7 linked regions of the Homo sapiens genome follow. The protein of the gene in region 1 purifies or fractionates together with the protein of each later gene. This does not show direct contact. Each region holds a gene or a part of one and is shown in the gene's direction. Other genes may lie near its edges.

The links.
Region 2: the proteins of PCDHB6 (region 1) and ST7 purify together in Homo sapiens (affinity purification with mass spectrometry; one large-scale study listed by BioGRID and IntAct). This does not show direct contact.
Region 3: the proteins of PCDHB6 (region 1) and POMT2 purify together in Homo sapiens (affinity purification with mass spectrometry; one large-scale study listed by BioGRID and IntAct). This does not show direct contact.
Region 4: the proteins of PCDHB6 (region 1) and PNPLA6 purify together in Homo sapiens (affinity purification with mass spectrometry; one large-scale study listed by BioGRID and IntAct). This does not show direct contact.
Region 5: the proteins of PCDHB6 (region 1) and POMT1 purify together in Homo sapiens (affinity purification with mass spectrometry; one large-scale study listed by BioGRID and IntAct). This does not show direct contact.
Region 6: the proteins of PCDHB6 (region 1) and KCNT2 purify together in Homo sapiens (affinity purification with mass spectrometry; one large-scale study listed by BioGRID and IntAct). This does not show direct contact.
Region 7: the proteins of PCDHB6 (region 1) and SLC27A6 purify together in Homo sapiens (affinity purification with mass spectrometry; one large-scale study listed by BioGRID and IntAct). This does not show direct contact.

The regions. Positions count from the first base shown.
Region 1 is NC_000005.10:141,148,514-141,153,167, forward strand, and holds the start of PCDHB6 (protocadherin beta-6 isoform 1 precursor), read left to right. Parts: upstream 1-1,543; 5' UTR 1,544-1,744; coding exon 1,745-4,129; 3' UTR 4,130-4,654. UniProt on the Homo sapiens protein: Calcium-dependent cell-adhesion protein involved in cells self-recognition and non-self discrimination. Thereby, it is involved in the establishment and maintenance of specific neuronal connections in the brain.
Region 2 is NC_000007.14:117,222,216-117,226,096, forward strand, and holds part of ST7 (suppressor of tumorigenicity 7 protein), read left to right. Parts: intron 1-645; coding exon of another isoform or gene 646-765; exon of another isoform or gene 766-1,692; intron 1,693-3,881. UniProt on the Homo sapiens protein: May act as a tumor suppressor.
Region 3 is NC_000014.9:77,300,381-77,304,261, reverse strand, and holds part of POMT2 (protein O-mannosyl-transferase 2), read left to right. Parts: intron 1-1,318; coding exon 1,319-1,427; intron 1,428-3,012; coding exon 3,013-3,172; intron 3,173-3,881. UniProt on the Homo sapiens protein: Transfers mannosyl residues to the hydroxyl group of serine or threonine residues. Coexpression of both POMT1 and POMT2 is necessary for enzyme activity, expression of either POMT1 or POMT2 alone is insufficient.
Region 4 is NC_000019.10:7,548,883-7,552,763, forward strand, and holds part of PNPLA6 (patatin-like phospholipase domain-containing protein 6), read left to right. Parts: intron 1-1,024; coding exon 1,025-1,230; intron 1,231-1,415; coding exon 1,416-1,547; intron 1,548-1,634; coding exon 1,635-1,758; intron 1,759-2,111; coding exon 2,112-2,225; intron 2,226-2,479; coding exon 2,480-2,555; intron 2,556-3,881. UniProt on the Homo sapiens protein: Phospholipase B that deacylates intracellular phosphatidylcholine (PtdCho), generating glycerophosphocholine (GroPtdCho). This deacylation occurs at both sn-2 and sn-1 positions of PtdCho.
Region 5 is NC_000009.12:131,512,864-131,516,744, forward strand, and holds part of POMT1 (protein O-mannosyl-transferase 1), read left to right. Parts: intron 1-375; coding exon 376-468; intron 469-2,562; coding exon 2,563-2,659; intron 2,660-3,694; exon of another isoform or gene 3,695-3,881. UniProt on the Homo sapiens protein: Transfers mannosyl residues to the hydroxyl group of serine or threonine residues. Coexpression of both POMT1 and POMT2 is necessary for enzyme activity, expression of either POMT1 or POMT2 alone is insufficient.
Region 6 is NC_000001.11:196,339,376-196,343,256, reverse strand, and holds part of KCNT2 (potassium channel subfamily T member 2), read left to right. Parts: intron 1-151; exon of another isoform or gene 152-201; intron 202-1,028; coding exon 1,029-1,178; intron 1,179-2,686; coding exon 2,687-2,916; intron 2,917-3,881. UniProt on the Homo sapiens protein: Sodium-activated and chloride-activated potassium channel. Produces rapidly activating outward rectifier K(+) currents. Contributes to regulate neuronal excitability.
Region 7 is NC_000005.10:128,982,244-128,986,124, forward strand, and holds part of SLC27A6 (long-chain fatty acid transport protein 6), read left to right. Parts: intron 1-2,889; coding exon 2,890-3,093; intron 3,094-3,881. UniProt on the Homo sapiens protein: Mediates the import of long-chain fatty acids (LCFA) into the cell by facilitating their transport at the plasma membrane.

The DNA.
Region 1 (4,654 bases):
ATGCCGTTAAGCTGGAATCAGAACTCAGAATGCTCACCGAAAGAAGGAAGCATTTAAGATTGAGCAGGAAATAATGGCCTTGTTTCAGCAAAGAGATGACACCAGTCCAATATGTTTATTATTGTTGGTTTATTTCATAATTTCATTTTGTTACATTCTCAAGGAACAGTGTGTTCCCAGTAGCATCTATCAAGTGAACCCTGGAGGCTGGTCACATTCATAATCTTTTGTTTTTCTGGCTACATAGAGGTGATTTTGAACTACAAGATCATCTCAGCTATTCAGAGTTTAGATTTTATTTAGCCTTATTTGTTTTGCCTAGCATTTATGTATTTGAAAATATCTTGATTTTTAATCTTCTATCACCTTGGCCCTTACCTGAAGTGAACTTTGTTTGAACTCAATTGATTTCACCTCTCAATAAATATGAAATTAATCTGAAATGAATTGAATTGTTTGGCATATTTTACCTCTTCTATGTGCACTAATCTATTTCACACATTTTCAGTTTGTTTAGAGATACATGTTCCAATGTATCTGAGTAGAAACTAGTGAGATGGGAATGGATATAGCCATAATATTCCATCATTGAATTCCATGGCATTCACTCAAATGTAACTCACCTGTTTTAACAGTACCTTAATTTGGCCTGTATTTATTGGACTTGGTGTTCTTTTTGCTGTGAGAAGACGGTGAAGGTGATTCTTGAATGTTTGTTTTCTGTGTTGCATCATGTTTGTACAACACGGTAATATATTTGGACCTTGATTAAATAATGTAAGAGGGGAATTTGATCAAAAAATAAAATGCACAAGACTGTTAAAACAATGTCTAATTCTATCCATGCAAAAATGGAGTAGAATCCTAAAATGCTTATGACAACTACTTGATTGCTTCTAGTCCCTCTTTTAAATACTTTAATTTACTTAGATACATGTATCATACGTACTTCTTGGCCTCAGTTTTCCTCCTAATAGCCTAATTGTTCTTTTTACTGTGCAGGCATAACTATATAACAAAGTAGGTTTTTTTTTTCATGCCATTTATGAGTCATATAATTTAGATAATTTATTGTTTATTTTACCATTATTGTTGCTAACAAACTTCGTTGTTTTGCATTGTTTGTTGGGACAATTAAATAGTGTACCTCTTGGACTAATAGATTAAATAGTTCATCAGAGATAAATTGCACTGCTGAAGCATCAAAGGAGAAAGACTGAAGTGTAGAATCTGCACTTCAATCTTTCTCCTTAATTAGCACCACCAGGGAATTTGATTCAAGTTCTAGAGGGGAGTGAACCCAGGAATTGGCTTAAAAACAAAAACATACACACAAAAAAACCAACGCTCGCAAGCAATTATTTATGCATGCGGTCCACGCACTCAGTTTGAGAAACACTGACTCGACTTAAAAGTCTTTATAATGCTCAGATTTCTGAAATGCTATTGACCTGAAAACATCTCATGAAGTTATTAGTTTGAACGCGTGGTGGCGGTACAAGCTAAGAGAGTGAATGAAAGCTCTGCAGACTCGGTGGACTCCGTTTCATCCAGAAGCCAAGTAAAAATACAGACCACGTTTACAGCTAAAGCTGAGATAGATGTGTCCGGGAAGGCAGTCGTCGCCAGACAAGTTGTAAGAACGAATTTAAAAATCTCTGCAAAGACATCCGAGAGGGTCGACGGTAGATGTGGTGATTGGGAGCTGAAAAGGATTTTTCTTCCGTATTCAGACATAATAGACATGATGCAAACTAAAGTACAGAACAAGAAAAGGCAAGTGGCTTTCTTCATTTTATTGATGCTTTGGGGAGAGGTGGGTTCTGAATCGATTCAGTATTCCGTATTGGAGGAGACAGAAAGTGGCACGTTTGTGGCCAACTTGACAAAGGACCTGGGACTGAGGGTGGGGGAGCTGGCTTCGCGGGGCGCTCGGGTTGTTTTCAAAGGGAACAGACAACATTTGCAGTTTGATCCACAGACCCATGATTTACTGCTAAATGAAAAACTGGACCGGGAGGAGCTGTGTGGCTCCACTGAGCCGTGTGTGCTACCTTTCCAAGTGTTACTGGAAAACCCCTTGCAGTTTTTTCAGGCTTCCTTGCGAGTCAGAGATATAAATGACCACGCCCCGGAATTCCCTGCCAGAGAAATGCTCCTGAAAATATCAGAAATTACTATGCCAGGAAAGATATTTCCTTTGAAAATGGCACACGATTTAGACACCGGCAGCAACGGCCTTCAGAGGTACACAATCAGCTCCAACCCTCACTTCCACGTTCTCACCCGCAATCGCAGCGAAGGCAGGAAGTTCCCGGAGCTGGTGCTAGACAAACCGTTGGACCGCGAGGAGCAGCCCCAACTCAGGCTAACGCTGATCGCGCTGGATGGCGGGTCTCCGCCCCGGTCAGGGACCTCCGAGATTCAGATCCAGGTTTTGGACATCAATGACAACGTCCCCGAGTTTGCTCAGGAGCTCTATGAAGCACAAGTCCCTGAGAACAACCCCCTCGGCTCTCTGGTTATTACCGTCTCAGCCAGAGATTTAGATGCAGGATCGTTTGGGAAGGTATCTTACGCCCTGTTTCAAGTCGATGACGTCAACCAACCCTTCGAAATAAACGCAATCACAGGAGAAATTCGGCTGAGAAAGGCTTTGGATTTTGAGGAAATTCAGTCTTATGACGTGGATGTTGAGGCTACAGATGGTGGAGGCCTATCAGGAAAATGCTCTTTAGTCGTCAGGGTCCTGGACGTGAATGACAATGCCCCTGAACTCACCATGTCGTTCTTCATCAGCCTCATCCCAGAAAACTTACCAGAGATCACAGTGGCAGTTTTCAGTGTTTCAGATGCAGACTCTGGACATAACCAACAGGTTATTTGTTCAATAGAGAACAATCTCCCCTTTCTACTAAGACCTTCCGTGGAGAATTTCTACACCCTGGTAACAGAAGGCGCGCTGGACAGAGAGAGCAGAGCCGAGTACAACATCACTATCACGGTCACTGATTTGGGGACACCAAGGCTGAAAACCCAGCAGAGCATAACTGTGCAGGTCTCCGACGTCAATGACAACGCCCCCGCCTTCACCCAAACCTCCTACACCCTGTTCGTCCGCGAGAACAACAGCCCCGCCCTGCACATCGGCAGCGTCAGCGCCACAGACAGAGACTCAGGCATCAACGCCCAGGTCACCTACTCGCTGCTGCCGCCCCAGGACCCGCACCTGCCCCTCTCTTCCCTGGTCTCCATCAACGCGGACAACGGCCACCTGTTTGCCCTCAGGTCGCTGGACTACGAGGCCCTGCAGTCTTTCGAGTTCCGCGTGGGCGCCACAGACCGCGGCTCCCCGGCGTTGAGCAGCGAGGCGCTGGTGCGCTTGCTGGTGCTGGACGCCAACGACAACTCGCCCTTCGTGTTGTACCCGCTGCAGAACGGCTCCGCGCCCTGCACCGAGCTGGTGCCCCGGGCGGCCGAGCCGGGCTACCTGGTGACCAAGGTGGTGGCGGTGGACGGCGACTCGGGCCAGAACGCCTGGCTGTCGTACCAGCTGCTCAAGGCCACGGAGCTCGGTCTGTTCGGCGTGTGGGCGCACAATGGCGAGGTGCGCACCGCCAGGCTGCTGAGCGAGCGAGACGCAGCCAAGCACAGGCTGGTGGTGCTTGTCAAGGACAATGGCGAGCCTCCGCGCTCGGCCACCGCCACGCTGCACGTGCTCCTGGTGGACGGCTTCTCCCAGCCCTACCTGCCTCTCCCTGAGGCGGCCCCGGCCCAAGCCCAGGCCGACTCTCTCACCGTCTACCTGGTGGTGGCGTTGGCCTCGGTGTCGTCGCTCTTCCTCTTTTCGGTGCTCCTGTTCGTGGCGGTGCGGCTGTGCAGGAGGAGCAGGGCGGCCTCGGTGGGTCGCTACTCGGTGCCCGAGGGTCCCTTTCCAGGGCATCTGGTGGATGTGAGCGGCACCGGGACCCTATCCCAGAGCTACCAGTACAAGGTGTGTCTGACGGGAGGCTCAGAAACAAATGAGTTCAAGTTCCTGAAGCCGATTATGCCCAACTTCCCTCCTCAGGGCACTGAGAGAGAAATGGAAGAAACCCCCACCTCTCGGAATAGCTTCCCGTTCAGTTAAGTGTGGGATTATTTTACTAAATCTTACTTATGTTTGGAGATCTCTTTTAACTTAAAGTTACATGGTCTGTTTCTTGTTTATTTTACCTCTATTCTTTAGGTTGAAATTTTATATAAAGTAAGATACTGGTATCTTAGTATTTCCTGTTCATGCTTAGTAGTTTATTACTTCACTTGAGGGTACTTGACAATATGAACAAAAAGTAAATTTTTATTTGCATAATTTTAAGCTTTTGAAATTAAATTATCTATTCTTCCCCCCCCCAAAAAAAAGTATTGTAAATCCTTAAGTAAAATTGTATTTCTAGCTATTGGTAAGAGTTGTTTCACTATTGCTATGTAGGACTGTTTAAAATGTGAGTATCTGATATTATTTAATCCTCCAATGTCTCATTTTGCAGTAACTCCTACAGTGTGTAACACTAAAAATAAGAACTAATGATGGCTAAACACTAAAGTAGCCATTCATACTTATGCATATTTTAGTATCCCATAATAGTCAATCCAAAATTTTTGTGACTATAGA
Region 2 (3,881 bases), on another chromosome or scaffold:
TCAAAGCATTAAGGGTCAAATGAGAAAGTGCAGGTTGTTACTGCATGCCTTGCCTCATTTCACAACAAATTCTTAGCAGTTTCCAAAAAATGCAGGAGGTCCAAAAGGATGGAATGATTTAGGAAATCCTAGCAAATGAAAATGTGTGGGAAGTTACTCGGTTTTCTGTAAATTGAATGACATTATTTCCAATCGTTGGATATTGTGGGTCTTTCCTTAGTGAAGGATGAGATTTACATTTTCAAAGATGATTTAAATAATTTTTTTTAATGGCTGCAAACCCTTGGCTTGTCTAAGGAATGAACAGAGGGTGTAAAGGGCTTATTAAGAAGTAAACTGAAATGACATTTAGAAATATGGAAATCCATTAAGAGTCTTTAAGGAGCTTGGGGAGAGGAGCTTTAATAAGAAAAGCCATCTGCATTGACAGCCAAGAACCATTGTTTCTTTGTTGAAAACTGACCATTTCAACCTGCACATGCAGTTGAGGATAAGTTTACTGATCTTGCCACAGATGAGTTTCAAACAGAAGGAATAAGGAAAACAGTATCAATTGTTTCCCTGGAACTCCATTCAGATTTCAAGGCGAGTGCAATCAGAAAGGATGATTTCTAACTTGGCTGGGTTGATTTAATCCCTTTCCAGATGATTGACATTTTCTGCTCGGCAGAGTTCAGGGACTGGAATTGCAAGAGTATTTTCATGCGTGTTGAAGATGAACTGGAAATCCCTCCGGCACCTCAATCTCAACATTTCCAAAACTGAACTCATCACCCCTCTTCCCCCACCACCAAAACTGCTCCTCCTCCTGTATTCCTGACCTCCGCCATCCACCCCGTTGCTCAAGCCGGAAACTCGGCAGCCCTTCCAAACTCTTCCCTCTCTCACTCCCCACATCCCATCGTCTCGGCCTTCACAATCTGTCAGTTCTAACCTCCTAAGCAACTAGGCCTTCAGTAAATGTGATTCACCTCTTCTTTCCCTCCTTTTCCCAAAGCATCCCTCTTAGTCTAGGTCCTTGTTGTTTCTTGCCTGAACTCCTGCCATAGTCTTAACTGGTCTCCTTGCTTCCTGTCTTATCCTCCACCGTCTTTCTTTTATACTGACACAAGAATGGTCTTTCTGAATTGCACATGTGAGCATGTCACTTCCCTGCTTAAATTTCTCCAGTGGATTCCCAGGGACTTCAGGATCAAGTCCTAGTTGTTCAGCATGGCATCCAAGACTCTTTATGATCTGGCCCTTGCTTACCTCTCAGCCTTAGCTCTCCCAACTCTTGCACAGTCACTGCTCTTCAGCCATAGTGGATCACTCACCATTCCCAGATGTACCAGGCTCTCGCACACCTCTGCACCTTTGCACGTGCTGTTTGCTGTGCGTGGAATGCCCTTCACTGTCACCACCCTGCTCATCCACTCTACTAATGCCTCTTCATTCTTTTATACTCAGCTTTCTTTAAAGTTCTTCTAAGCTGAGTTAGGTGTCTGTCCTTTATGATCCCGCAGTATTCCATGAATACGTATATTCTCACATTTATTGTACTGTATTATAATTGTTGAAAACTTGTCTGTCCCATTTAGAATGTGAGCTCCTTGAGAGCAGAACGGTGTCTTCATTATCTCTGTATCCCCAAGGCTTTGCACAGTGCCTTGCTCATAGTAGGTTTTCAATAAATGATTATTAAATAAATAATAAATGGTAGTGGTCTCTGCAGAAAGAATCAATGGAAAAATCAGATACAGCTTAGTATTTTTTTTTCTCTTCTTGTATACTTATAATCATAGCCTCTTAGAGTTGAAAGGGACCTGAAGCAAATTGCCTTTAATAGCAACCCTGAGTGGAGGTCACCTAGACTCATCTTGAATACTTTCAGTGATGGGGCACTCACATATTTATAAACATCAAAGCCCATTTGATTATTGGATGACTCAGAACTTTTCCTTGTACTGTAAAAATCTGCCTCCCTTTGGTTTCCACTTATTCCTATTCTATATTGAGGGTACACCAAGCAGCCCTCCTTCCTCTTGCAAATTCTTAGGACAGCTCACTCATTCATGGCCACCTCTAACCAACTACCTGCTTTTTCCTCCAGGTAGAATATCTTACATTTCCTTAAGTCTTCTGTGCATGACATGATTTCTACACCCATTATCACCCATATTGCTGCCTTGGATGTTCCTTAGTTTATGGGCCTACACTACTTGTTATTTTCTTCTACTCCCTAGCCAATCTCTGAGTAAAAGTAGTTGCCAAAACTCTGAGTAGAGTGTGACTTAGTAAAATTTAAAATAAGAATATATTTACATTAAACAATTATTGCTCTTTTATGTTTTCTGTTTTTCTGTTAAACATTTTTAGAGCATATTTGTAAAAATATGTCATTAGTCCAGTATTCTTCATTAAACTAACTGTAATAGCACTTGGTGGGAGTTTTGAATCAGTAGAGATTCCCAGCCTCCAGTCTATATATTCACCTGGCCGCACCACCAGAAATCCAAAATCTTGAGTATTAGCAGGAGGTATCTGTATTTTTCACAAAGCCCCCAGCATATTCTGAGGATGGAGATTGATGGCATTCTCCCGTCTCCTTCCAGGGACACTGCTTGGAAAGCTGAACCTTCGAGCAGCCACTTGCAGCTGCATGGTGTGCCATCACAGCTGTTCAGGTGGAAGCTTTTCAGGAATCAGTGGTTTCCCTGGCTCTACCTTGGAATCATCGAAAAACTTAAAAGTTACTGAGGCCTGTCCCCACAACCGGAACTTTCTTGGTCTGGGGTCCGCATGGGCAACTCAGTTGTCAAGCACTCCCCTGGTGATGCGGATGTACAACCAGTGTATTGAATAGAATGAATAATTGCCTGAGCCTGCTTTAACCAGCAAGGGGATTGGCAATGCAGAGGGAAGGATAGTGACTAGAATACACCTGGGTGTTCTCTAGGACTGGCCGTACAGCTGTGCTTCCAGAGTATCGGAGAGGGGTGTTCATTAAGGATGTGGGACAGGACTCAACTCGCCTCATTTCATGTTTTCAAAGCTTTGGTTTTGAGTATAGCATCAAATGATTGAATAAAATAGAAATCTGCCTTTAGGGTCCTCATATTTTCTGCTCTACCAAGGTGTGGTAGTTTGGTCAGCTCCCCATAGTTTTCAAATGTACTTTAGATAAGTTTGCATTTCAACCTCTATCTGGAGAATCACATTTATCTTGCCCTTCATTAAGGTCTAGCAGTTTCCAAAATGTCTGTAGAGACTGTGTGGGGAAGGAAGATGGATGGCCTGAATGAGACAAGCCCCTTCTCCCGCCGCCTCCTCGACCTGCCCCCAGAGTCTTCTCTGCATCTTCACCCTGGTCACTTCATCAGGCCCCTCCCGAAGCTCCCACGCCACACCCCACACCCCGCAGGTTATCGCAACTGCCCTAGAGGCTGCCTGCGACCATTTGCAGCTTGTGAAAGTGATTTTCTCAGCCCTTTGCTGAGATAATGTCCCTGGGACAATGACCTTTAGTAGATGCAGAGAGATTGCACTGCCACCCCCAGCTGCTGGCTTGGGAACTCTCCAGCATGTTTACTTGGTGACCATGATGTGCAGTCCATAAGGAAGCCCACAGGGAAGCGTGAACCACTGGGAAATAGTGGAAAGAGCAGCTTCCACTGGCATTTCCCCCTAATCTAATCTACCTCAGTGATTTAGGACTAACTCTTCCTAGAATGTTTAGTTACAAAGATAAGCTTGCACATATAAATACGTTATCATTCCAAACCCACCTCCTCACAGAATGTGGGAAGGTCAGGATTCTGACCCCTCTGTCTTTCCTTCTCTTGTCTCTCTCCTTCTCCGAGACTGAGCCTCTTGATTTCTGACTCTCATGTTCACTTATA
Region 3 (3,881 bases), on another chromosome or scaffold:
AGCAAAATGGGAACTTGGATAATAATCTTCACATGGATAAATGAGAGTTCATCGTAGAAGTTGATCCTGTTGCTAGCTTTGTTCCTATGAAAGTGAATTCATGACCTTGTGGAGCTTAACATTTAAAGAAGTCTAGACCAATTTAAATGGGGTACTTTAGGGGTTTGCTTTGACAGATATGTTGCTTTGTTTTGACAGATAGATTGCAAGATTATTGGCTTTCTCTATAGAGGACTGGTGGCTTTTTCCTTGTATCTTGAATTTCCATCTTCAGTTATTCATTCATTTAGTCATTTATGTACTTTTCATTCAATAGTTATTTCTCAAGCACCTACCCAGCTCCCGGCCACTTTTCTTAGTCTGAGAGGATACACTGATGAGTCACTCTGGTCTCATTGAGCTTACCTCATCGTGGGGCAGACAGTAAATAAACAAGTAAATGAATAAGTCTGTCATGTGATGTCCTAAGCCACAAGTGCAGTGTAGAAAATAAAGCAGTGTAAGGGATGGAATAATGGAGATCAGTACTATTTTAGACAGGATAGTCAGGAAAGAGCTTCTGAGAGGGGAGCTTTGAGCAGAGACCTGAGTGAGACAAAGGATCAGGCCCTGCAGGGATCTGAGGGAAGAGCATTCAGGCAGAGGGAAGTGCATGTACTGTAGTTCTGGTGTGGACCTCTGTGGGTTCAAATCACAGTAAGAAGGCTGGCGTGGAAAGGGCAGAGTGAGTGAGGCAGAGGGTGTTGGGAGATGAGGTTAGATGGGTAGGGAGACCGCACAGACTCTGGCAGTTGTCATGAGAACTTTTTACTTTGAGTGAGGTTGGAAGACATTGGAGGGTTTAAGCAGGGGCATGACATAATGAGATTTAAGGATTTAAATTAAAAAACATCACTCTGCCATCTGTCTGGAGAATCGACCCCCAAGAGAGACTTCATGTAAAATGATAAGATTCTATCATAGGTGTAGATAGTTTGCGGTTACATGAGCAGAGTGGTAGGACTCCCTTTTTGATGGTGGAAATGAGGATGACACCTTGTCTCAGGGCTGGTCTGAGGGAGCGAATGACATGATCCTCTCTTGGGTTGAGGGCCTAGAGGCAGTGTGAGTTACTGCTTCTTGTCATTGGGCTTTGATGTCTCCCAGAGCTGTGGCCTTCTACCTCCCTGATGACTCAGTGTTGACTCTAGTCCTGACTGCACAAGTGCTTACACTCAATTAAGTGGCAAGAGGGACTGTTTCCTACTACTGGGGTGCTTGGTTTTCAGGGGGCCCTTCTCTTACCTCGCTTTTTCACCAGCGAGCTCATGTTTTTCAGACACGGGATGCCTCACTCTGTCCCAGTACATCCTCCTTGACCCCATCCTGATGTTCTTCATCATGGCTGCCATGCTGAGCATGGTCAAGTACAACTCTTGCGCCGACAGGTCAGAAACTCCATCCCCGGGAGGGGAGGGTTGGAAGCTGTGGCAACTCCAAAATTTCTGTAATGGCCAGGGCCAGGGCGGGTGCCCAGAGACTTGTCTTGAAGCTGATTTTAAGGCAAGCATACTTTTTGTTTGTTTTTTTAACTTAGATTGTCCATTTTAGATCATAAAAATAGATTTTAAAAAGTTTTCTACAGGTGATTTTATTTTTGCCATATTCAAGACCGAGAAAATGTCAGTTGTCTTTTTCAAGCGTATTATTATTATCATGTTTACAATGGAGTACAATTGGGTAGGGGTTTTGGGATATCATGGGGGGTCCTAATACTTTCCCCACCCACCTCTTGTAACCAGTGCTGGTTAGGAAATCCCGGGACAGGGCTGTCCTTCACATACTCTGTCCTAGAAGGGAGGGCACCAGGGTAGATGCTGCCTGGAAACTATCTCCCTTTCGTCAGTGGTTGCATCCAGTCCTGACCTAATGATGGGAATAGCATATGTAAAGGTTGGCTTGAATGGTCCATACCAGCCAAGAGGATCCTTCCAGGTCCTGGTCAGTTCTAAAGCTGACTTGGAGGGTCCGGTCTACTTGCAGAATAGTCTTTTCCAGATCATCCTTCTACTTCTGAGAAAGTAGAATAAGTCATTCATTCTATTCAAACCAGAAGAGTTGGCCCCTCGTAGGCTTTTCTGGAAGTTAACTTTGCACAGCCAGGCTCATTAAGCTCCATTGTGCTAATCAAACCTGATCAGTGACTCTCAGCCCACTCTGGCTTTGGTTGTTGTGCTTATGCCACATCCACTTCCATCTACCATTTCTTGAGTACATACTGTGTACCAGGTACTATGCGGGGAGCTGGAGGTACTGAGCTCTGTTGGGCTTGGCTGTTAAGGAATATTCACTCTGGCAGAGGAGGCAGCCAGAGAGCCAGAGAATCATAGTGTAGAGTACTAGGTGCTATACGAATAGCAAAATGGTTAAGAGCACTAACATTGACCCAATTGCCTGGGTTAAAACTGTGCCCCACTGCCTGCTAGCTGTATTACTCCACCTCTCTGTATCTTGATTTCCTCCTGTGCAAAAAGAGGACCTAGTGACAGGATCCTCTGTGTGCTGTAGTGACGGCTAGAAGAGTTAATATATGCATCGTACTTGGAATGATGCGTGACGCATACATAGTAAGCACTCGGTAAATGCTGCCTTCGACAAGGGCAGAGGTGACACAAAGGAGAGGGCTGCCTGAGTCCAGGGGCACCTAAGGATTCTCCTTTTACTCCTGCCTGACTGGTCACTTGTGAAGAAGGAGCCCCCACTTACCCTGAGCCCTGTACTTAGCCAGGAGCACTATGGACACTCTCCCCTGAAGAATACCCTGCGCCCTCAGACAGTGCTTTTCCTGCCGTTCCAGGGGTTTCACAGGCCGCCTCCTCCATGGAGCCACGCCATGGTCCCTTGAGGCTAAGAGCCCCCAAGACAGGGCACAGCACAGCCGCTCCAAGTCTGAGAACTGCCCTGTCCCCTGCTGCGCTTGCGTTTGGCTTTGGTTCCAGCTGCCAAATTGAACTCCGTCTTGTTGATTTTCAGGCCCTTCTCTGCCCCCTGGTGGTTCTGGCTCAGCCTGACTGGCGTTAGTCTTGCTGGTGCTTTAGGGGTCAAGTTTGTTGGCCTCTTTATCATCCTTCAAGTGGGGCTGAACACCATTGCAGACCTTTGGTACCTGTTCGGAGACCTCAGTCTTTCATTGGTGAGCACCCAAGGGTTTGCTGTGGAAATGTTTTTGCTCCCTGATGTTGCTGAGTAGGAGCTGGTGGCCTTCTCTGTCTCTACTGCAGGTGGCAGAGTGGCTGTGTTCTGGGTCCCAGGTGGGCTGGACCCCCCAACCTCCGCAGACAGCAGGACATCAGGGAGTGGGCCCGGCTGAGGACTGGATAGGGTTCAAGGGAGAGGATAGATTAACATTCTTGGAAGTCTCTTTTTGCATTTGTTTTATAATGTCTGTCTTTTTTTTTTTTTTGAGATAGAGTTTCACTCTGTTACCCAGGCTGGAGTGCAGTGGGCCGATCTTGGCTCACTGCAACTTCCGCCTCCTGGGTACGAGTGATTCTTTTGCCTCAGCCTCCCAAGTAGCTGGGATTACAGGCACATACCACCATGCCCAGCTAATTTTTGTAGTTTTAGTAGAGATGCGGTTCTACCATGTTGGCCAGATTGTTCTCAAACCCCTGACCTCAAGTGATCCGCCCGCCTTGGCCTCCCAAAGTGCGGGGATTACAGGCATGAGCCACCGAGCCCGGTCTGAACTCACAATTTTCATTTCCTGACCCACGGTCTCCATATTTGGAGGCCAGTAAGGGCCTTTACAGTTTATTATTTATTAAGGGCTGATTCTATGCCAGGCACTATGCGAAACGCTTTACCTTCATTATCTCATTTACCCCTCATAATAGTCCTAT
Region 4 (3,881 bases), on another chromosome or scaffold:
AGCTCCTCCTCCCGGGTTCACGCCATTTTCCTGCCTCAGACTCCCAAGTAGCTGGGACTACAGGCGCCCGCCACCACGCCTGGCTAATTTTTTGTACTTTTAGTAGAGACGTGGTTTCACCGTGTTAGCCAGGATGGTCTCGATCTCCTGACCTCGTGATCCGCCTGCCTCAGGCCTCCCAAAGTGTTGGGATTACAGGCATGAGCCATCGCGCCCGGCTAAAAAATATTTTTATATTTATTTATATTTATATATAGATGGTGCTTATATCCAAAGTCTTTATTCTCTCCTTCATGTTTCTTTTTTTTCTTTTTTTTTTTTTGAGACGGAGTCTCGCTCTGTCGCCCACGCTGGAGTGCAGTGGCGCGATCTTGGCTCATTGCAAGCTCCGCCTCCCGGTTTCACGCCATTCTCCTGCCTCAGCCTCCCAAGTAGCTGGGACTACAGGCGCCCGCCACCACACCCGGCTAATTTTTTGTATTTTCAGTAGAGACGGGGTTTCACTGTATTAGCCAGGATGGTCTCGATCTCCTGACCTCTTGATCCGCCTGCCTCGGCCTCCCAAAGTTCTGGGATTACAGGCGTGAGCCACCGCGCCTGGCCTTCTTCTTCTTTTTTTTTTTAAAGACAGTGTCTCACTCTGTCGCCCAGGCTGGAGTGCAATGGCATGATCTCAGCTCACTGCAACCTCAGCCTTCCAGGTTCAGGCAATTCTCTTGCCTCAGCTTCCTGAGTAGCTGGAATTACAGACATGTGCCACGACGCCCAGCTAATTTTTTTATTTTAGTAGAGACAGGTTTCGCCACGTTGGCCAGGCTGGTGCCGAACTCCTGGCCTCAAGTGATCCCCCCTGCCTGGCCTCCCAAAGCGCTGGGATTACAGCCGTGAGCCACCGCGCCCTGCGCCTTCATATTTTTCTTAACCCTTCCTTTCTTCTTTAATTTTTTCCTGTGGGGGCATGTTGACCTGAGCTGGGGTCCACGCTGTCCGGGTTCTGTGTTCATCACATCCCCTGCCCGCACAGGACGTGAGCCTGCACTTCGTGCTCTGGGGCTGCCTGCACGTGTACCAGCGCATGATCGACAAGGCGGAGGACGTGTGCCTGTTCGTAGCGCAGCCCGGGGAACTGGTGGGGCAGCTGGCGGTGCTCACTGGCGAACCTCTCATCTTCACACTGCGAGCCCAACGCGACTGCACCTTCCTGCGGATCTCCAAGTCCGACTTCTATGAGTATGACAGCCCGAAGTTGGAGTGTGGGTGGCACTCGGAGGACCCCAACCCGTGGGAGTGGCCAGAACCCCATCCCTCAACCTCACTCCTGGAAGAGCAGAAGGGAGCCCCCAGATCTGGCCTCCCAGCGCCGGTGTAGGACGGTTTTGAGGCCTTCCTCTTTCATCCCAAGTCTGTTCCTGCAGGATCATGCGCGCACAGCCCAGTGTGGTGCTGAGTGCGGCGCACACGGTGGCAGCCAGGATGTCGCCCTTCGTGCGCCAGATGGACTTCGCCATCGACTGGACTGCAGTGGAGGCGGGACGCGCGCTGTACAGGTGCAGCTCCCACCGCGCTGCTCAGGCCCGGCCTAGGGGTGGGGACCTGGGGGTGGTCAGACCTTGCTGACCTCCACGCCCACTCAGGCAGGGCGACCGCTCCGACTGCACTTACATCGTGCTCAATGGGCGGCTGCGTAGCGTGATCCAGCGAGGCAGTGGCAAGAAGGAGCTGGTGGGCGAGTACGGCCGCGGCGACCTCATCGGCGTGGTGAGCGCGACCCCCACCCACTGACCTCTGGCCTTTTCCAGGCCAGTCCCTCGACAACTCACACACATCATCCCGGGTAATCCAGGGAGTGGTGAATGCAGCTCCCGACCTCTGAGGTCACCCAGTCCACTCCCCGCCCAGACCTCATTTCGTTGGAAAAAGGGGATTCCGCCTGTCGTGGATCCCTGTCCTCTCCCTCTCCCCAGAGCTCTAATGGGTAGCGAGCGAGGCTTGCTTCCCTACACCCCCATTGCAGGGGAGCCCTAGATGGGGCAGTACAGCCCCCTTTCCACCCATCTTCGGCCTCCTCATTCCCCACCCAAGCAGCCCCAATCATGCACGCGGCCCCCCAGGTGGAGGCACTGACCCGGCAGCCGCGAGCCACGACGGTGCACGCGGTGCGCGACACGGAGCTGGCCAAGCTTCCCGAGGGCACCTTGGGTCACATCAAACGCCGGTACCCGCAGGTGCGGCCTGTTGTGGGCGGGGCAGAGAGGCGGAGGCGGGACTCCGGGGGGGTGGGGGCCGGGCCTAGTGTGTGGGCGGGGCTTACAGAGGGGCGGGGTCGAGGGAGGGGCCGAAGCGAGAGAGTGAGGGCGGGGGCTCTCGGGGGTGGGACCCAGGTAACGGGCACCCAGGAGCCCCGGCATAGGAGGGAGAGGTGGGACCTGGACAGCCGCTTCCCAGGTCTCACTGAAATGCCGGCCTCCAACGCCCCCAGGTCGTGACCCGCCTTATCCACCTACTGAGCCAGAAAATTCTAGGGAATTTGCAGCAGCTGCAAGGACCCTTCCCAGGTGAGAGCCGGCCGGCCCAGAGCGTGCTGGGAGATGTAGTCCGGCGTCCAGAGCATGCTGGGAGGGAAGCCTTCTTTCCTGAGGGATGCTGGGAAATGGAGTTCCGCGAAGAAATCGTGCCCCTGAGGGTTTCAAACCCTAAGTAGGACCCAGGTGCAGAGCATTCTGGGGAATGGAGTTCGTGTTCCTGAGCATGCTGGGAAACGAAGTCCTCGACCCCTGGCGTGCTAGTTAATGGGCTCGAAAGTAAATCAGTGGTGCCGGGGAGGGAGTCTTAGGCGGTGGACTTGGCGTAGTCTGCCCGGGAGTCAGGGCTTGCTGGGGAAGTCCACGGCCTGGACGTTGAGAGAAAGGGAGTCCTAGATCAGAATATGATGGCAGGGCCGTCATGGTGGCTCATGCCTGTAATCTCAGCACTTTGGGAGGCTGAGGCAGGAGGATCGCTTGAGCCCAGGAGATTGAGTTTGAAACCAGCCTGGGCAACATAGTAGGACCCCCGTCTCTACAAAAATTTCAAACATTAGCTGGGCTTGGTGACACATGCCTGTAGTCTCAGCCACTCAGGAGGCTGAGGCGGGAGGATTGATTGCTTGAGCCCGGAGGTCGAGGCTGCAGTGAGCCGTGATCGTGCCACTGTACTCCAGCCGGGATGACAGAGCTAGAACCTGTTTCAGAAAAAATAAAACAGCAAACAAACAAAACTCCCCATACCATGATGGAAAATAGTCTGTGGATTGTTGTTTAGGACTCTGGGCACCTCGCCTTCTGAAGTTACAGCTTGCTGGGAGATGTAGCCCCCTGTTTCAGCCTGTGGCTTCAGTGAGCTAGAACAGAATGGGGCGTGCGGTGGGGTTGGAGGCCTGCTGAAATGAGGGCCTGAGTTTCTACATTGTGGTGGCCAGATTCTGGGCCAGCCCAGCAACCTAGATACCCCTTTTCCCTCCAGGGGTTCTACCCAATTGGCCCTGAGCCCTAGATCCCCCAAGGCGGGGGCAGGGCGGTAGTGGCAGAAAAGACATCATTAAGAAATTACAGAGGCCTGGGGCGGTGGGTCACGCCTGTAATCTCAGCACTTTGTGAGGCTGAGGCAGGTGAATCACTTGAGGTCAGGGGTTCGAGACCAGCCTGGCCAACGTGGTGAAACTCATCTCTACTAAAAGTACAAAAATTAGTCGGGTGTGGTGGTGGGTGCCTGTAATCCCAGCTACTTGGACGGCTGAGGCAGGAGAATCGCTTGAACCGGGGAGGCAGAGGTTGCAGTGAGCCGAGCCTACGCCATTGCACTCCAGCCTGGGCAACCAGAGCAAAACTCCATCTCAAAAAAAA
Region 5 (3,881 bases), on another chromosome or scaffold:
AGCCTCCCAAAGTGCTGGGATTGCAGGTGTGAGCCACCACGCCCGGCCCCCTCATACACTTTCATTGGTGGAATGCCCTTCAGAAGGATTCCTTGGCAGTCATGGTACATTTGTCACTGTAGTGTTTGTAGACAAATTCAGAGCAATGCAGGTGTGATGACCGCGGGTAGAATCACATTCGGAAAATGACCTTTGGTTTCAGAAAAGAGCCCAATTAATGTCTGTGCTTTGGTTTCCTGTGTTCACCTCATGTGAGGCACACATGGGTTGGGAGGCAGTCTCAGCCATGAGAATTCAGAGCTGTGCCCCTCCGGTGCAGCTGTTAGTTCGAGGGGACCAGGCTCTGTGTGGTCCCGACAGCACTGTGTCTTCCAGGCACCAGCTGGTGGTGAGCAGCCCTCCGAGACCTGTGAGGCACGGGGACATGGTGCAGCTGGTCCACGGCATGACCACCCGCTCCCTGAACACGTGAGTGTGCCCGCCGTCTGCTCTGCTGCACCTGTGGGTTTCCTCTGTGGTTCTCTGTTCAGACCAAAACGTGAGCCCTGCCTTGGGCCGCTGCCCCCTGTCTACCCATCATCTGCATGTGTAGCAGCTCTTAGACCTACATTTGATGCCGGGAGGGGACCCAGGCCTGGCCGCGGAAGGGAGCGGGGTTAAGAGGAAGCAGGGGCTCTGTGAGGACTGGACAGAAGCACCTAGCACAGCCCATCCTAGGAGAGCTCAGGGCCCCGTGGATGAGTGTACAAGGACAGGCTGGGAATGTTGACCCGCTTTCTATGCAGAGAATGGAGTTTGGGCACACCTCCTTAAAGTGGTCAAGCTTAAAGTATGAGTGAGTCCAAGAAGCCTGGAAGCTCGGGCACGAGTGGAGCCGTGAAGGCTTCTTCCTTCTCAGTCCTTCGTCCTTGTCCGACTTGCCTTCCCGTGGTGCTGGGCACAGTTGCTCACACCCTCCTCCTTCCTCCCTGACTGCTCTCTCCACCGCCTCCTTTTCCTCTGTTGCTCTCAGTCTCTGAGGGCCCTCCGGCCTTGCTGCCTCTGCACAGGCCCAGTCCCGGGGCTACCTCTCCTGGACTTCCACCCGGCTGCCCGGGGCTCACCTCCAGCTCTCCACGACTCCCAGCTCCACAGGGGCGGTCTCTGGCCCTGGCTTTTCTGGTTCTCCCTGGAAAGGGCCCAGTAGCTGAGGCATCACCTGACTCCTTCCCCTCCCCTCCCATTGCATGTTGATTCCATTGGGAGATCCTGTTTCTCAACCTTCAGAACCAGCCCTGGGTAGGGGTCCTTCCTTCTCCCTCTACTCCCACCTCCTGGGGCCTGACCTCTCTACCTCGCAGCAGCCTGTCCGGCCTGCGGACCGTGCACAACCCACTTGCGTTGTTCCTCTGTGCTCAGTGACTCCCGTCACCCGCCAAGGTCCCTGGTGACCCTGACACACTTCACCCCCGCCACCCTGGCTCCCCCCAGCCCTGAAACAACCACCTGCGGGCCCCTTGGGGGCTTCACACTTGCTCCCTCTGCGAGAATGTTCTTGGACTTGGCTCCCCCATGGCCCCTCTATGTAGGGGTCTGCTGGGATGTCACTGCATCCAAAAGTGCCTCCTGGGTGCTGTCCCCCACCATTTGTTTTATTAGTGGCACTCCTACAGGTGCACGCTCTGCCCACCGGCATGATGGCTGTTTCCCAGAGGGCTGTGAGGGCCTTGTCTTGTTCACAGCTGGGTGGCTGCTCCTAGACAGTGCCAGGTGCATGGTGCGGTACCACATGGTTACTGAGTGTGTGGATTAAGAGGAAGTGGGTGTTCCTGACCGGGCGTGCTGGCTCACACCTGTAATCCCAGCACTTTGGGAGGCCAAGGTGGGCAGATCATTTGAGGTCAGGAGTTGGAGACAAGCTGGGCCAACATGGTGAAACCCCGTCTCTACTAAAAATACAAAAATTAGCCAGGCATGGTGGCATGTGCCTGTAATCCCAGCTAGACAGGAGGCTGAGGCAGGAGAATCGCTTGAACCCAGGAGGCAGAGATTGCAGTGAGCTGAGATCGCGCCATTTGCACTCCAGCCTGGGTGACAGAGTGAGACTCCATCTCAAAACAAAAAAGAAGTGGGTGTTCGTTAACATTGAGGTTGATAGCCTTTTCTCCCAGCTTATCTGCTGCGTCCCCAGGCCAGCTGGGCGCAGGGGCGGGCAGCTCAGCCCTGCAAGTTGTAGCATTGGTACTGCCAGCTGGCATCGCAGCAGTACCGGATCGGGCCTGGGCGCACGGTTCCTTCCTCTGAAACTTGGTTCGCTCGTCTAACAGGTGGAAGGTTCCACAGCAGAGTGTCCTTTTCTTTTGGAGATGTTCCCACAGGGCCTCCTGCCTGTTTAGTGTCCACTCCCATCGCCGAGCCTCAAGACCTCCGTCCTCAGTAGCAGCAACTCATGGGACTGGGCCACCCCTTATGGCTGAGCCGGCTTTGTTTCTGAAAAGCAACCTTTTCCTGCCTGAAAGATTTAGTAATTGCCTTCCAGAGGAGTTCAAGGAATTTTCTGAAATCTCGGTCTTGGTTTTCCAGGCATGATGTTGCAGCCCCCCTGAGCCCCCATTCACAGGAGGTCTCCTGCTACATTGACTATAACATCTCCATGCCCGCCCAGAACCTCTGGAGACTGGTGAGTAAGGCTGCGGCTATAGCAGCCACAACCGTCAGTAATGAACACTCCCTCACACGGAGCACTTCCTCACCCGGAGCACTCCCTAACACAGAGCACTTCCTAACAGAACACTTCATCACACGGAGCACTTCCTCTAACACGGAGCACTTCCTCTAACACAGGACACTTCCTCACACGGAACACTTCCTCACACGGAGCACTTCCTGTAACAGGACACTTCCTCACACGGAGCACTTCCTCTAACATGGAGCACTTCCTGTAACACAGGACACTTCCTCACACGGAGCACTTCCTCTAACACAGGACACTTCCTCACACGGAGCACTTCCTCACAGGGAGCACTTTCTCTAACACAGGACACTTCCTCACATGGAGCACTTCCTCACATGGAGCACTTCCTCACAGGGAGCACTTCCTCACACGGAACACTTCCTCTAACACAGGACACTTCCTCTCACACTCACACGGAGCACTTCCTCTAACACAGGACACTTCCTCACACGGAGCACTTCCTCACACGGAGCACTTCCTCTAACACAGGACACTTCCTCACACGGAGCACTTCCTCACATGGAGCACTTCCTCACAGGGAGCACTTCCTCACACGGAACACTTCCTCTAACACAGGACACTCTCACACTCACACGGAGCACTTCCTCTAACACAGGACACTTCCTCACACAGAGCACTTCCTCACACGGAGCACTTCCTCACACGGAACACTTCCTCACACGGAACACTTCCTCACACGGAACACCTCCTCACACGGAACACTTCCTCACACGGAGCACTTCCTCACACGGAACACCTCCTCACACGGAGCACTTCCTCACACGGAGCACTTCCTCTAACAGAACACTTCCTCACACGGAGCACTTCCTCACAGGGAGCACTCCATCACACGGAGCACTTGCTCACACGGAGCACTTCCTGACATGGAATGTTTGAAACTGCCGTTGAGAATAATCATTTTTCCTTTTTTTCAGTTTACCCAGTTGAGGTTGGATATTTAGAATAATTCTGATTCAGATGTAAAGTTACATAAGTTTTATTCGTACATAAAGTCACAGATGTTTTCACAGGGAACCGATGCGTCTTCCTTGGTGGAACTGGGGAACCTGGTGGTTTCCTGCATCAGAGGCCTGTGTTCACTGAGATTCTAAATGCTTTGTGTTTGCTCCATGTTGGGTGCCAGGTGCGCTTGAGGCTCTGCCAGGTG
Region 6 (3,881 bases), on another chromosome or scaffold:
ACAAAAGACATTGTACTTTTTGTGGTAAAATTATCTTCTTTATAAAAATACTTTTGTGGGATGTCTTTTGGAGATTTAGTCAGTTCAGGCTGTTATTACAAATTACCACAGCTTGGGCATTTTATAAACAACAGAAATTCATTTCTTACAGTTCTGAAGGCTGGAAATCCAAGATCTAGGTGCCAACATGATCCAGTGCTGGTGAGGGCCCCCTTCTGAGTTTTAAACTGCTGACTTGTATTTTCACATGGCGGGAAGATAGCTCTTTAGCATCTTTTTAAAAGGCACTAATTCCATTCCTGAGGGCTCCACTCTCATAACCTAATTGCCTCTCAAAGGCCACACTCCCAAATACCATCATAATGGGATTAGGATTCCAACATGAATTTTGTGGTTACAAGAATATTCAGTTAGTTGGAGAGATCCTTACATTTAAAATAAGAAAAGTGTCTTTTCGTGACTGCTATACAATTGGAAGAAAGTTATTGCTACGATATGAACAAAAACTAAAGGTATATTTTCTATAAAATCAAAGATAAATTGAGATAAATTTGTAATTTTAAGTATAAAGCAAAATAAAATACCTACAGCAGCCACGCAGGTATCATAGGTAAGATAACGTTGGCCATATTATGGAGACTGTACAACAAATTTTAGAAGATATACATGATAGGATATGTATATAAAGAGAGACTAAAATCCTGTATCTCATTGATTCATTGTGAGAGTAAAGCTTTTCATTAGCTGGATCTTGGAAAACTCCCACTTTCTACAAAACTGTCATTTCTCAAGCATATATATATATATACATATATATATATATATATATATATATAGTATTCAAAATTTTTTAGAAACTCTTGCATATAATGTCATCTTCAGACTTCAAAGCATTACTCAGATGCTCCTTTGGATTGTGCTTGCCAGTTCTTACACAGTTGAGAAACAGTTCTATAACAACTGTTTTTTAACCACATTCACTGTGTTTTCTTTTTGTGTGTGTGTATGTGTGTGTGCCTGTGTTGCAGAGAAGGCCAGCAATCGCCAGAACAATGGCAGAAGATGTACGGTAGATGCTCCGGGAATGAAGTCTACCACATTGTTTTGGAAGAAAGTACATTTTTTGCTGAATATGAAGGAAAGAGTTTTACATATGCCTCTTTCCATGCACACAAAAAGTATGTTTCTGCCTCAGAGAAAAATTAAAATATCAATCAGTCAAGCATATCATGTGAAAATAGTTTTCAAAAATAGAATGCATATTGTGTTCATGTGTTTAGGCATTCCGGAATTTTTGTCACAATATTCCCCAATGTTGAAACATTTGAACCCTGGTGTCTGTATGGTCTCTATAAGACAGTCAGGAGTAAATTATAATTTAGTAGGAATATTTCATTTAGCCACTTTTAAAGTCTTTTTAAAATATTTTAATCCATTAAGAATTTACATACATATGAAAATCTTCTTCACAGATCTGAATTTTAAGATGTTGATTAGGAACTAAAACAAAGTAACACTAATATTTCTAAAAACTGTACATTTGAAAAAAAAATCTCTGATGGTGGCCCTTGTTTTGGCCTGAGAAATAAGTTAAAAAATAAATAAAACTACCTTCCAATTCAAACATAGAACTTTTTTTTTCTTTTCCTTTTTGGAAAAAAAAAGGATTTACTTAAGAAGTAAAAATGTATGTATATAATGAAAATAACATATTATCTGTATTAAATGTTTTAATGTGACACATTTTGGAGGATTTACAATATACGTATATAGTCTACTAACTAATCTATTATGTAATGTACAGGAACCCCCAACTTATGATGCTTTGACTTACTATTTTTTTACCATGATGGTACAAAACAATAGCCATTCAGTAGAAACCATACTTCCAGTATCCATACAATCATTTTATTTTTCACTTTCAGTAGAATATTCAATAAATTACATAAGATATTTAACACTTTATTATAAAACAGGCTTGGTATTAGATGATTTTGCCCAACTGTAGGCAATGTAAGTGTTATGAGTATGTTTAAGGTTGGCTAGGTTAAAACTATGATATTTGTTAGGCTAGCTGTATTAAAAGCATTTTTTATTTAACAATATTTTCAACTTATGCTGGGTTTATCAGGACATAACTCTATTATAAGTCAAGGAGCTTCTGTATTCTACTTTACTTTTTTTTTCTGACTAAGTACATACCTATTTAAGACTATTTAAATATATATATTTTTTCTAAAATTTAAAGTAAACCAACTGTGATAAATTCAGGGACCCTGGTTCTCTTTCAGGTGACCATGGGTAAGTTTCTTTCCTTTGGCCAATAGTTTTAAGCTTTTTATTTATTTTTTTTAACCAAAGTAAGATATGCTGTTTATGTTTTTTGACCAAAGTAAAATTGTTGTAAAAATTCGCAAAATAATGTTACCCTTAGTGTATACATGCACTCATGTTTCTTATGTTCTTCCATTCATTTTCATTAAAATGTAAATTTATAGTGGTCATAATCAGCTAAATTGGTTTTACAACACACTAAGCACATAGTTTATTTTCCTGTAAAAATGAGGATCTTGAACTTCTAGGATCATTTCAAGCTTTAAAATGCTATTATTTAAAGCTTTTATTTTCCTCAGCCTTACAATAATTTACTAATTTTCTTACAAACTCTCTTTTTTTTTAAATTAAGGTTTGGCGTCTGCTTGATTGGTGTTAGGAGGGAGGATAATAAAAACATTTTGCTGAATCCAGGTCCTCGATACATTATGAATTCTACAGACATATGCTTTTATATTAATATTACCAAAGAAGAGAATTCAGCATTTAAAAACCAAGACCAGCAGAGAAAAAGCAATGTGTCCAGGTCGTTTTATCATGGACCTTCCAGATTACCTGTACATAGCATAATTGCCAGCATGGGTAAGTATAAACAAATTTGAAATATCATTAATTTATTTCTAAAATAAAAAATAATGATAAATACCAATGCATTTAAATTTTTATTAAAAGTTTAAAGAAAATTTCAAACATGCTGCATTTTACAAACTAGGTATGACTAGGTATACAGGACAACAGTTCTAAGTTGTGAATTTTTTAAAAAGTAAGATATTAGCCTACTGTGGTGGCATATGTCTATAATACTACCTATTCCAGAGGCTGAGGTGGAAGAATTGCTTGAGCCAGGAGTTTGAGAACAGCCTGGGCAACAGAAAAAGACTCTGTGTCCAAAAAAACCTCAATCTAAGATATTACAAAAACACAATCAACAATCATTTTATATTTCTCATTATATATAAAGCACCACACACTTTTATATTTCTTTTGTAAGTTCTCTTTGTAATTATCATCAAGAGAGGCTATTTCAAATATTCTTCATTTTCTCAAAATTCTCTTTCCATCTCTTACCTCACTCTCACCACTGAACTTGGCTTCTATGACACAGAAGAAGAAAGGTAAAAGAAAAAATACCTCCATGCAAATAAGAATTTCTTTACGGTTTGGCCTCCAAACCATCTACAAACCTACAAACATTTAGTATCTGTCACAAGGAAAATGTGTCATTTTTAACTAATACTGATACATTCATTTATTCCAGGAACCATGCCCTTGTTCCTCCTCAGAGACTTTACTCTTTAATCCCTCCTCATTACCTAACTTCATTTTCTATTCAGAATCACTGGCTGATCTCTCTCTCTCTGTGTCTCTGTCTCTCTCTCTCTCTCTCTCTCTCTCTCTCTCTGTGTGTGTGTGTGTCTCTTCATATCTCTGTGTGCACCATACACTTGTAATTTTGAACCTTCCATGATAACAACTTCAGAGACAAATTTCTCCAAAGTGTTGTGTTTAGTGGCAGGCTTTAAATTTTATTGTTGTCCTATGTCCAT
Region 7 (3,881 bases), about 12 Mb from region 1:
GAAGAAATAATTTTGTTACACTAAATTCTATTTGAGAATTCTAAGCATCTCACCTAAATAAAATTAATTTTAACTTATGAAAGAAGTGACATTGTATCTCCTCTGATTCCTAGGAACCTTCTCACTTTCTTTTTTCTTGCTGTAAAAATTATCACTCTTGGTAAATACTCAGTTTCTTTGGGCTCTAGAATTCCAACAAAGATTTGGAGCCACACTTATTCATATTTTAACTTTCTTGGCACTTATTTCCCCAATTTAGACATACATATCATTAAGAACATATAAAAGTTTGTGCTGGGAATTTCTTATTCTAGATGAGAGATTTTGAAATTAAAGTAATGAGTCAGTTCAGAGATTTGCACTTACAAGTTCAAAACCTGAGAAAGAGTCATTACAACAAAATCTGGAACAAACATTAAAAAGAAAGTCTAGATCCTTTGCTTATCCAGTTTTTCATGTTTCTAACTTGTCACTCCTCCTATCATCCTTGGTGATTTTTCACATTTTGCCAAAGCAATCTATATACAGCAGCATGATGTGTGTGTGTTAAGTAGAGCTAGGCATTTTCCCTGGATTCTTATATTTTACTTAGATTTGTTATAGAAATAAAAATTAATAAGACATCTTAAGGCTATGAACCCCACTTTCCACCGCATATCAACTTCATTATAATTTCTGTGTTGCCTTCTATTTTCATACAGGTTTTATTTATAAACTGCTTAGTCCCACTTGACATATTTATCTTGCTGCTGCTTTGTGATCAATCTGGGTTATAGATTTCATGAAAGTAAATCAAGAGTTTTCCCCCAATGTATTTCATTGTAGTAGAACTAACCCAATGACTGATAGTTGGCCTTTTGAGGGAACCAGATACTGATTTATGTTTCCAGGGAAATGTTTAATGCAGAACTCTGAATTCAAACTCAAAGCAGAATATATCTTGTGATTATTTTAAAATTTTTCCTGAAAAAATTAGAAAAAATATAATTGCTTTAGGTGTAAAGGTCCACATTTTCATGTACAGAACTTGAGCATTCTGATCCGGGTTTTTTTTTTTTTTTTTTTTGAGACAGAGTTTTGCTCTTCTTGCCCAGGCTGGAGTACAATGGCGTGATCTCGGCTCACTGCCACCTCCGCCTCCTGGGTTCAAGCGATTCTCCTGCCTCAGCCTCCTGAGTAGATGGGATTACAGGCACCCATCACCATACCTGGCTATTTTTTTTGTATTCTTAGTAGAGATGGGGTTTCACCATGTTGGCCAGGCTGGTCTCGAACTCCTGACCTCAGGTGATCCACCTGCTTCGGCCTCCCAAAGTGCTGGAATTACAGGCATGAGCCACCGGGCCTGGCCAATCTGTATCTATTTTACATTTAGCACCATTATTTTTTCTTTTTTGCCATTTATTTCTTTTATGAGGTAATTTTATAGTTTTAGAGTTAGTCTATGGTTAGATTACTAATTCTACCATCCACCAACTTGTGAGCTTGATGTATGAGTTTCCTAAGGCTGCTATAATGAAGTACCACAAACTTGGTGGCTTAAAACAAGCGAAATTTATTTTCTCACAGTTCTGGGGGCTAGACATCCAAAATAAAGCTGTCAGCAGAGCCATGCTCCCTCAGAAGGATCCAAGAATTTTTTCTTGTCTCTTAGCTTCTGGTAGTTGCCAGTAATGTTGGACTTCCCTTGCATTAACTCCAAAAGGCCAGTGGGGTACTATTGTTTAATATCCCCAAGGACGTTAATATAGATTTTAAGATAACCTATATAGCACTCAGAAATCCCTTGAACCTTCTAAATGTATAGCATATTATAGAAATAAGGAAGTAAAATCAGAGTTGCCATGTAGAATATAAAAGTTGAACTTCATGTCAGAGATCCATGCTAAAGTAAGGGAGTGGTGAATTTAAAAAGAATTTAAATAATATAAATAATTGTATGCCTGTCTACTCTGGAGAAAAAAATGATGCTTCACTTGCTTACACAAAAGACTGTATAGGAATGATGACATTGTTTCTTTTGTATCCCACAGAGTGTTGGTTACCTCAGTGCTTAATTATTTCCTCATCAAGGACCCAGTCCCACCTTCTGTCTCTCTTGTTTTCACCACTACTCCTCTCTTGAACAGATGATATTTTTTTCCTGGGTTACTGGGCAAATCAGGAAGGTCTGGTTAAGTTTCACAGATTAACTCAACATAGTCTCACCTCACCAGTTGCTCCTTTGTTATCCTTGTAGCAGATCCTTCCTAAGAAACTTGTCCCTTTTTCTTTCTGAACCTTAAATTGCCAATCACCCAAACTGTGAATTGTAAACATTGTACCCAATAGGTAATTTCTCAGTCTTCACCTCTCTCTCCCACCCTCCCCCATTTTGGAGTCCCCACTCACTTAACTTCTGGCTTTGGAATGATTTCTAAACCACAATGATCTTGTGATTTCAGAGCAGTCGGGGATTCTCCCAAATGTTTTGCATTACAGTGGAACTGAAGAGTAACCTGCAGACAGCTTTTGGAATAACTAGCTACTGAGTTGTACTTCAAGGAAAATGTTTAGTGCAGTATCCTGAATTTAGATTCAGACAGAGTTTTAAATAGTTTTATTTAAAAATTGGTGGAGGGAAACCCATAATTTGAATAATGGAGTCTCTTAAATTCAGTCTGAATTGGACTGCTTGCATTGGTCTGTCAGGTGATAACTAAATTTCCCTTTCAGTTGGTCCTGTTGAAACGGAACCATAAAATGACTGTGATATTACTTATCCAACATAAGAAGGAAATCAGCATTTTATTTACATTTTATCCCTGTTTCAATACACAAAAGCAACTCCAAAGTGAATTGTTTGAGATTTAAGGTTTGCTTAACTCTTCCCAACCCTTTGGCTTTTAGATTTGCTTGGAACGGTAGAAGAAATCCTTCCAAGCCTCTCAGAAAATATCAGTGTTTGGGGGATGAAAGATTCTGTTCCACAAGGTGTAATTTCACTCAAAGAAAAACTGAGCACCTCACCTGATGAGCCCGTGCCACGCAGCCACCATGTTGTCTCACTCCTCAAGTCTACTTGTCTTTACATTTTTACCTCTGGAACAACAGGTATGATCCAATTCTTTTGAAGGCTAAAATGAATGCGAGAAATTTGCAAAGCAACAGTGTTGGGCAAATTTCTACCATGTGTAGTGACCAACCATCTGAGAATGCATGCTTGCAAGAAGATGTAAGGATCTCAGAGGCTAGAACTTTCCAACTTGGATGGAAAGTTAATTATCTTAACTTTTACTTGAAAAGTCATTGTGTTCATTTGGCATTTGTCTCATTTGACAAGATTTTCTTAAAGTTTGGTAGTACAAAGGGCATGGGAGTATCCAAACACCTTGATCCAGTCTCATTGCTCAGTGTATGATACTTGATACTTGATTTTTTGGGCAAGATCTTTGTTAGCTTCTCTGATCCTCAAATTTCTGATATCTAAAATGAAGAAATTAGTTTAAATAGTTTCTACTGATTCTTTTGGATTTAAAAAGTGTTTTAATGTACTTGAAAACAGTTCTCTATATTCCTGTGTAAATTATTAAATCCTAAACATAATCCAGGTATACCGGCAATTTAAGCACCTGTTGCTGGCTCTCCTGATTTTGGTCAGGGTAATTGAATCATGTGACAAACAGGAACTCTTGAAGGCACTGCAGGTTTGGACTAAGATACAAAATAAAATCAAGTAAATAAGCTTTATTTTAAGTAAACAACAGCAATAACAATAATAAAACTGCCTGAGAATTCAAAAGAAGGGCCTGGCACAGTGACTACTCACACCTGTAATCACACACTTTGGAGGCCAAGGCAGGAGGATTACTTGAGGCCAAGTGTTTGAGACCAGCCTAGGC